Regions from separate parts of the Homo sapiens genome. Here region 1 is linked to region 2. A link means that fine-mapping ties the variant in region 2 to the expression of a gene that starts in the linked region. Tissue or cell type: left ventricle. Region 2 holds a variant in brackets; the other region holds the start of a gene. All regions are shown on one strand. Distances are between the middles of the regions.

What was found. PIP is the estimated chance that this variant, and not a neighbour inherited with it, causes the effect.
Region 1: it holds the start of CES1, and the variant in region 2 is fine-mapped to the expression of CES1 in left ventricle (GTEx, PIP 0.96).

What each region holds. Positions count from the first base shown.
Region 1 is chr16:55,830,378-55,835,377 of GRCh38, reverse strand. CES1 (carboxylesterase 1) reads left to right here and starts at 2,282. Exons shown (of 14, transcript NM_001025195.2): 1 at 2,282-2,374. The coding sequence starts at 2,323.
Region 2 is chr16:55,806,320-55,811,319 of GRCh38, reverse strand. CES1 (carboxylesterase 1) reads left to right here. Exons shown (of 14, transcript NM_001025195.2): 10 at 310-393; 11 at 656-803; 12 at 4,856-4,987. Among named protein-coding and RNA genes, the nearest start is that of CES1, 24 kb to the left of the region's middle. The variant T/G (reference allele first, on the strand shown) is at 2,591.

The sequences.
Region 1 (5,000 bases), 24 kb before region 2:
GACAAGGCAATTTGCCTTAGATAAGGCTACTGATTAGAATATCTTCCTGATGTATAAAAGCAAGAGAAATGGCTGCCAGCCACCCTGTGCTGGAAGGCAGAAGCCTCAAGTTCTGGTTCTGACTTTGCCATTGAGTTGCTGTGTGACCTTAGGCAATCCCTCCTCATCTCTGGGCCTTAGTTTCTTTTGGGAATAAATAACGGAATTGAGTTGAGCCTATGTATTAGTCTACTTAGGCTGCCAGAAGAAAATATCACAGACTGGGTGGCTTAAACAACAGAAATCAATTTAAGATCGTGAGACAGCATTAATCTCACGGGGTTATTTTGAGAACTGAGATCCTGCATACAAAACTCTCGGCATAGTGTTTGCCACACAGTAAGCTCTCAGTAAATATTTGTCAATGAATGTATGAAGGAATAAAAGTGGAAAATGCAAATAAGTGAAACACTGACAAGATTACAGCCAGGAAATGGCTGTTGTAATTCTAATTAGATATATAGACTTCCAGTATTTTCCTATGCAAATAAAGACATATGTTACTACCAAAACGGGACCATATTATACCTATCTAGATTTTCAAAAATATTTCATTATTTTATTGAAATATAAGTCACATGTCATAAAGTTTACCTTTTTAAAGTGTACAATCTAGTGGTGTTTAGTATATTCCCAAAGTTGCACTAACATCATCACTATTTAATCCCAGGACATTTTTACCACCCCCAAGATAAAACTCATGCCCATTAGCAGTCACTCCTCATCCCCGTCTCTTTCCCCTTCCCCAGACCCTGTCAAACACTTTCTGTCTCCATGGATTTGACTATTTTGGAAATTACATATAAAAAGCATCATACGACATGTGGCCTTTTGTGGCTGGCTTCTTTCCTTTACCATGATGTTTTCCAGCTTCATCCACGTTGTAGCATGTTCTTCTTATGGCTGGATGATATGCCTCTGCACGCATACACCACACTTCATTTACACATTCATCAGGTCATGGACATGCGGGTTGTGCCCACTTTTTGACTAGGATGAATGACACTGCTCTTTGTGTACAAGCTTTTGTGTGGACATGCTTTCAGTTCTCTTCGGTAGACACCTAGGAGGGGAATTGCTGGGTCATATGGAAACTCTGTGTTGAACTTTTTGAGGAACTGCCTACACCGCACAACAGTTTATAACCTATTATTTTCTCCTTTCACAACGCATCCTGTCTTCATTGTTAATAAATAGCTGTGCACATCACTATTTTGAGTGAATACATCGTATTTCCTTAGCCAGCGGTACCACAGTGTGTTTAGTGAATTCCCTATTGTTGGACATTTAATAATCCCATGAAAGAGGCTTTGAGTGACTTCCTTGTGTCCCCAGCAGCTTGTAAATGACAGTTTTCCAGGTGTGCCCAGAGCACTCTGTATCCCCTTAATTTGGTGATTTCACATTGCCTTGACATCACCCCTACTGCTCCTCCACCCCATCTGTCTTGTCTACAATGGTGAGCCCCTTGAGAAGCTGAACCATGTCTTGAATTGGTCTTTGTATCCATTATACATGGCCAGGTGCCAAGCATTTTGGTAAATGTTCACAAAATGGATGGGTACTTGGATGGATGGATGATAACAGCCAGGGACTATGGGGGGACGGAGTTCATTTTTACATTCTGTCCAAAAATCCCTGCTTTGGAAAGTAGTGAGTTCTCTGACACCGATGGTGTGTGACAGGAGGCTGGACCAGTTGGCAGGATATTGTGAAGCTAATTCAGGCCTCAGAAAGGGGACTCGATGAAATTTAAGATCGCTTCCAAGCTTGAGAGCCTGGAAAGCTATGAAAACACAAGCCCTGGGAGCTGAGATATGTCCTAACTTACCCAGCTGAGCTGTGAGGTGTGAGTGGCTCTAACATTTTCCAGTTGTTTCTGAGGACCTCAGATCAAAGCTTCCCTTTGCCTAAAAGCATCTGCCTGCTGGTGTGGGCCCTTGGGGGCCGTCACAGTGCACTGAGGTTAGAGTCCTGCAAGGGTGAACCCTTATGTAACAAGTAGTTGGGCAAGTTTACAGCTCTCTGTAATCTGACAGTAGAGTCCAGACTGGTTTGATGAAAGAGGGTAAACTGTGGGTGGGCGTGGCCTGAGGCCCCACTAGAAGCCCAGGGAGATCTGAGGAAAGGGAGGGCTTTTCTGATCTCTCCCAATTAGAGGATTAGGCAATTGGCAGCGCAGGGCGGTAACTCTGGGCGGGGCTGGGCTCCAGGGCTGGACAGCACAGTCCCTCTGAACTGCACAGAGACCTCGCAGGCCCCGAGAACTGTCGCCCTTCCACGATGTGGCTCCGTGCCTTTATCCTGGCCACTCTCTCTGCTTCCGCGGCTTGGGGTGAGTCCTTCTGAAATCAAAATGCGGGGCACTTTTTGAAATCCTTGTTCTGGGCCGAGGTGGGCGCAGATGCGTAGAAAGGCAAAGACACAACAGGTCCGGCTCTGCGGCGGGGCACGACTTCCATATTAGGACTTGGACTTGGAGCAGCTGAGCCCGGCCAGCCTGGCCCGCGCGGAGACGCAGGGAGGGTGAACATCCTGAGATCGCCCTGTACTGCTCGCCCAAATGCAGGCCGACAGCCGGCCCACCTCAGGCCGCACACACGAGAAATTTAGGCAGCTCAGTTTGCTGTCCCTTAATTAGTCCCCTTACGGCTGGATCACGGAGAGCGGCTCAACATAATATTAAGAGCATCGACTCTGGAGCCAGAGTGCGTGGGTTCGAGTCCCCGCTGGGCGCTTCCTCGCTGTGTGTCCTTAGGCAAGGGACTGCGCTATTCCGTGCTTGGGTTACCCCCTCTCTGAAACAGAGGTGGCAGTGCTGCCTACCTCACTGGGCTTTGGTGAGGAGGAAATGGGTGGCTGTTTCTAAAGCACTCTTGGCAGCGCCTGGTATGTAGAAAGCACGAAAAAGGGATGGATAAATAAAGGCGCTGTTTAAAAACGTAGTGTATGAATAGAAAATTTGAGCTGTGGTCAGGCCACTATATCAGGACCTCTTGCCATTAAAAAGACAGTTTCTTACTCATGTTCTCAACAGGAGGGGGACACCAGTGCGCGGGGCACAAGGGGAAGCAGCAGAGCCTGGGGAGGGGACAGGGCGGATCTGAGGCCAAGGGGCTTTTACTGTGGCTTCCAAGGATAGAAGAGGAAAGGCAGGGCAGGCAGGCTGAGGACTGGCAAGTTGGGATACTTCAGGGGCTCTGGGGCACAGGGGCTGTTCCTAATTGTTTTGTACCTAGCCCTGGCATGATTAGGGCAGGTGGGTAGTGGCCAGGGCATGGCAACCCGATCAAAGAGGCAGTTGGGGTGTGGGCTCTGGGGTGGCTGGACCCTGGGAGGGAGTTTCTCCAAGGTCAACAAGGCCTCAGATGCCAGAGCATCAGAATACAGAAAGCAAAACACATGGTACATAGAGGGGTGCAGCGAGGGGCCTCGAAATACCCCCATGCCATTTTATAGACAGAGAAACTGAGACTCACACAGGGAAATGTACTTGCCCAGGGTCAACCCGAAAATCACGCCTAGGTCTGTCTCTGGGTCCTGAATCCTGACAGCCCAGCCCCGTCTGCATCCTGTCTTCCTTCTGGCAGCCTGACACTGCGAGAGCTCTGGAACTGTGGGGAAGGGCAGAGAAGAGAGGAAGCCTATTTGGAACTGAATGTTCCTTTACCTCTGGTTACTCCTGGCAATGCCATCCATTTCCTTCCTTAGGAAGACCATACAGGCTGCCTCCACTTCCTCAGTTTCCTCCTCTGTAAAATGGGCATGTTGATGCCTACCCAGCAAGGCTTATTTGAAGATTAATTTAAAAAACTGGAATGCATGCCTGGCACATAGTAGGTGCCCACCATGTTCGTGCTTCATATAACATCAGCAGCAACTGGTCTTGTTCTCACACTTGTTTCTGCCTCCCCCCATTCACCCACTTTTTCACCCTTGGCAATCTGGCTGCCATCCACCTCATCCTGTTGAAGGGAATCCCTGAGCTGAGCATGACCAGCCCAGTGGTTTCTTCTCTGACTTGACTCTCCTCCACCTCCCTGAAGTCCTCAGCACTCTTAGCTGGTTCCTCGCCCTCTTGCTCCCTGGGCTTCAAAGACATGGGAACGTTCTCTCTCCCCTATTCTGATGGATCTTTGGTCTTGGCCGTAGTGGTCCCTGTGTTTGACCTTTGTTTTTTTTTCTCTTCCCTCTCACACTGGCATCTTCAATGAAGCCATACACATCCACCGTATGTACCCTCACAGTCCAGGAGAAGATTCTGCCCTGCTCCCTCACCAGGCTTCCTTCCAGCTTTGAAGTGCGCTCATCCTGTGGCATCATCTTGCCTGGATATCCCACTCACATCTCCACCGAGCCTGTGTAAACAGGGATCCAGCATTACAAGCCAGCTCTTTGGTCTTCTTTCCCTTCCATTTCCCCCACCTCTGGTCAGGGACCAAGTCTTTTCTTTTCCTTTCTTTTCTTTCCCTCCCTCCCTCACTCCCACTTGCCTGCCTGCCTGCCTGCCTGCCTGCCTTCCTTCCTTCCTTCCTTCCTTCCTTCCTTCCTTCCTTCCTTCCTTCTTTCCTTCCTTCCTTCTTTCCTTCCTTCCTTCCATCCTTCCATCTTTCCTTTCCTTCTTTCCTTCTTCTCTCTCTCTGGAGGAGCCAGGATTACAGGCACATGCTACCACACCCAGCTAATTTTTCTATTTTCAGTAGAGAGGGGGTTTCACCATGTTGGCCAGGCTGGTCTTGAACTCCTGACCTCAAATGATCTGCCTGCCTTGGCCTCCCAAAGTGCTGGGATTACAGGTGATCCACTGTGCCTGGTCTCCAAGTCTTTCAAAATACCTTTTAGACATCATCATATTTCTACATATTTTTTCTTTTTTTATTTAAAATTTTAAAATAATTAAGATGGGGGGGAGGATTTCAGGTGAAGACCGGAAATCCCATACAGTGCTGAAAAGGTGGAAA
Region 2 (5,000 bases):
ACTGTAGGGATCCCAGCCACAGACACACACACACACACGCGCGCACACACACACACTGCAAAACACTGCCACAGCTTCTCTGAAATTTTGTTTTTTGTTTTTTTTTTTTGTAAACTTTGCAATGCTTGAGTTTCTGGATATAAGCCCATTTGATTCATTGATTTCACCCATTTCAGTAAAGACTCATGCCCTTAAAAGCCCCCATAATTAGAGGACTTTCAGACTGCATTGGTTTGGTTGGTTGGTCAGTTTGTTTCTTATCATTAATTCCCAATGATTCATAAATGCTGAACTTTTTTTTTTTTTTAGCAGTTGATGAGCTATCCACTCTCCGAAGGGCAACTGGACCAGAAGACAGCCATGTCACTCCTGTGGAAGTCCTATCCCCTTGTTGTAAGAGTCTAGGAATCATGGGAATTGGCTGAGACCCAGAGAGGGACAAGGACTTGCCCAAATCATAGAGCAATTAAATGGCAGAATGAAGACTGGGGCCTCAGGGTTTCCCCCATCTTTCCACCTTTCCCACTTCATTTTCCACCCTAGCGGGGAGTTGCACAGGGCTTATGGGGTTCACCATTGAGGCAGGACTTTCTGGTGGGCTGGAGAAGCTGCATCGCTCACCCGGGGCTGGTGGTCACTTTTTGATCTATTTCAGTGCATTGCTAAGGAACTGATTCCAGAAGCCACTGAGAAATACTTAGGAGGAACAGACGACACTGTCAAAAAGAAAGACCTGTTCCTGGACTTGATAGCAGATGTGATGTTTGGTGTCCCATCTGTGATTGTGGCCCGGAACCACAGAGGTGAGTCCCAGAGGTCGAACGGGAGGGACACAAACCCCACGAGCTTCTGTATCTGACCCACCTACCTCCCAGCATAGACAGACATGGAAACAGCTGAGGGTCAGGCCTCAAAGGCTGATTCCATATGGCATGGGATGAGGTGCTGTCTTATTTTGGTTTATGCCAGCAGAAGACTGTGAGAAAAAAAAATCCAGAGGCAAGTGGTTTTTTTAAGGTGATGATCCCAGATAACAGCAGTAGGGAGGTGGGGAAGTGAGAGAGGAAAGAGATGGAATCCAATCCAAGATGCGTTGTCAAGGGAGTATCCACTGTGGACAACTGGAGCGGGGAAACTCAAGGAAACACCAAGAATACAGGGCTCAGGGGCATCCCATCTGAGTGGCAAGGGAGCCGGGTATTTATTCACCAGCTTCTACTTGTCATTGGTTGAAGGCTCTTGCAAGGAATTGTTTATTCCCTGTGACTTCGACCTGCTGCACACAAGGGCAGAGTAGTCTCTTGTGACCAGACAAAGGCCTCAGGCCTGGAGCTGCAGATGCTGGAGGTGGAAGTCAGGCTGGCATGCCCAGGAAGAGGGGATATAGGTGAGACCCTGGCAGCATCTGCTGCAAGGGCTCCATGCCTGGAGTTATTGTGGGACATAGGGCTGCTGTAGGACAAATATTGAAAGATGAGTCGTGGAAGGGTTTTAAGGTCTGAGCCAGCTGCAAACAAGTTTGTTAAGTATTGGAGCTGGATAAAAAGTGGGAGCCCTGCATGGGATCCAGAGGATTGTCCAGGACCAAGAAGGCCAGAGAGAGGAGCCAGGGCGGGTGTGGGAGAGGTGGTCTGTAGAATGGCAGTGTCTGAGGGTGGTTTTTATGCATCTCAGTGCGTGCAGTAGCATGCAAGCACAGGGCAAGGGCAGGGTCTATGCAGGACCTGCTACCACTGACCCAAGGCTGTGTGGGTGGGGCATGACGTTAGGGATGTGTGTGCTCACCTAGAGAGGAGTGTCTGTTCCTGCGTGCCAGCTAGAGGAGATTCACAGGATTCCTTTTCTTCCAGCTCTCATTCGCCTAGTCTGCAAGCTAGGAAATGTCCTCTCTCTAACCATGCTGGAAGGGTTTTTAAATTTAGAACTTCATAAGCATGATAAAAACTAGCTAACGCTTAACTAGCAGGTGCCCTGACACACCTTTGCACAGGAAGGGGCAGGTGCTCATAACCCTCATTTCTTCACAGGGTCCTGATAAAAACCTTTAACCAAGACCACTGGAGTTGAATCTGTTCTTTCTTAAACTTGCCCTTGCCCTATGCTCTGCGTCTGAACTATATATAGAGTTCCCATCTCCATTTTCTGATGGTTTGAGCAATACTGAACTTATGTTTTTCATCTGGTTTCCCATGACTTTAAGTTCAGGGCTTTTTTTTTTTTTTTTTTGCCAGGACTACACAGATTTTATCTACTTTCACTTATTGTTGTCTCACTCTTTTTGATAAAATAACATTTCTGAATATAAAATTAATATGTTAAATTATAGAAACTTTCAAAAATATGGAAACACAAAAAGAAGAAACTATGTATCACTCATTTCCACTACCTGGAGGCAAGTGCTATAAATTTTTTGTGTTTTCGTCTAAAGATTTTCCATGTCCTATATACTTTAAAAATCAATTTTATATTTTACTTTTGTTCATAGAACACTATGTTGTGAGGATTTTCTCAATGTTGATACAAACTCATCAAAGCATTCCTTATTCCATGAAATGGCTGTGTTAAATAGACTTTAATATTCATATCCTAT[T/G]AGATGTTTAGCCTGGCTACTCACATTCTGATGCTACAATAACATTGAGCTCAGCCTAATGTTCATAAGTCTCTAAACACATGTCTAATAATTTTCTTAGGATTATTTTTAGAAGTAAATAACTAGGTTGGACAATGCAAATGTTTTAGAACTTTGGGCAAATATTGTAAAATTGCATTCCACTGCATAAGAATGTGGATTTCTTAATTCTCTTTCTCATTTGGGATGCTAAGATTAAAAATTAGCATAACACTTCCAGTTTCATAAGCCTTCCCCACCAACAAGAAGCACATCAGCCTGTTTTAATCTGCATGTCCTCCATGACTAGCCCTCTCATTGTCTCTGCTTCTCTTATTATGTCTAATTGTCATTACCCAAATCTGTGCGCTACTTTCCTCTGAAGACTTGTGTTGTGATTGTAAGAATTGTATAAATATCAATGGCTTTAGCCAAAGAGTTTTACAAAGTACGTTTTGGGCAGCATGCTGCCTATAATAAGTTCTATCATTCACAAAAGCTCTTTCTTCTATGGTTGGCTCTGAGTTTCTTTGGAAAATGTTCGAGGGGCAAAGGCAAGGTCAAACCCTCCTTTTAGCAAGTTTTGTTTGACCTTGAAGCAGCCATTTAACAGGTGGATTACAGAGCCACAGAAGGATGGCATCTTCCCAGGTGCGCTTCCTGCTGAGCCGAGGGTGCAGTGCAGGAGGCTGACAAAGATGAGTGAATAGATTATTCTTCATTCTCACATTGAAATGACATGTGCGGGTGGGGCATGAGGTTAGGGATGCGTGAGCTCCCATTGTTAAATCCTTTTGTGAACGAATTTTTAATGATGTTAAGAAATGATGGCTGGAGGCGGTGGCTCTTGCCAACACTCTCAGCATTTTGGGAGGCTGAGGTGGGAGGATTATGAGAGCCTAGGATTTCAAGATCAGCCTGGGCAACATAGTGAGACCCTGTCTCTACAAAACAATTTAAAAGGGAAGTGATTACAGTGTACTACAAAATACCATATATAATATCATCCCCAGTTAAATACATAAAAGAGAGATATGCTAAAATAAAAAAGAAGCATTCTCTGAGTGGTAGAGTTATGAGTGATACTTTAAATTTGATTGTTAAAATTGATTTTTAAATTATATAGGATATGGAAAAATTTTAGAAGGAAATACAAAAAATGCATGGCCCTTGCCTCAGGTAGTGGAATTATGAGTGATATCTAGTTTTGCTTTATGCGTTTCCATATTTTTGTTTCTTCTAATTATTCCTAATTGTTTTTATTTTCCAAATTTCTTACTGTACCCAAAGGGGAGGACATTGTAAATTTTCTCCACCAGCCTGGCATTGCCCTGACTCTTTCCGTCTTAGTGTCACTTCTCAGTGGGTATCATGACCAGTGCAAAGTGCTGAGGCACAGGGCCAGGCGGCCCACGAGGTAGCCCTGAAGGGGCAGCGATCTGTGGCTCCAATGAGCCAATCATTGGGAAACTGGCATCTTCCTGGGGCTGGGACAGGAGAGCTTTGTTGGTGGGAGAGGAGGGCAGAGCCGAAGGAGAGAGGGCAGGGGAGAGGCAAGGTCACCCTTGCTCAGCGCCTTCTTTTCTCTGCCAGGGCTTTACTGCCTTAACACCCTAACACTCCCAGGCCAGGCAGGCAGCAAGACACATGGGGACAGTGAGCTATAAAGCAGTGAGTGCCGCAGGTTCCTGAGACACAAGAGGCAGATTGTTCCCTCTCTGCATATGTTTGTATTTAAATAGCCTCATGTTCAGACAAGCAACTTGGATTTGCTTCAGTCTTCTCAGGATGGGTGAGAAAAACACTGGAAATGCTCAAAACGAGGCAGAACAGAAGACACCTGTCATGGTGGAGATGGCATCCAAGTGAATGAACGCGAGTCTGTTATCAATGAATTATATCCGGTGTAACCAGATGTAGAGAGATTGTCTTGTGTGAGAATGCACCAGCAGGCAAAGGGGTTTACGAGGCAGAGTCAGGGTCCCTGCACCGGCAGCTGTTTTAAATGAATTGACCCAGGGTTTCCACATTCATTCATTAAACATTTGTTCATTGAACAAATATTTGGCTCTAATTCCGCTTCCACCTCAGACAGCTATGCAGCCCGGAGCGCATCACTGAGCTTTCCTGAGACTCTGTTTCTCTACTGTGCTGACAGCCAGAGGTTTGCTGCAGAGCTGAAGACCTTGGTAGCCTCCAGGTGTGTGTCTGGCAACATGAACTGTGCATGAATCCTTGTCTTCTCAGATGCTGGAGCACCCACCTACATGTATGAGTTTCAGTACCGTCCAAGCTTCTCATCAGACATGAAACCCAAGACGGTGATAGGAGACCACGGGGATGAGCTCTTCTCCGTCTTTGGGGCCCCATTTTTAAAAGGTAATGCTCCTTC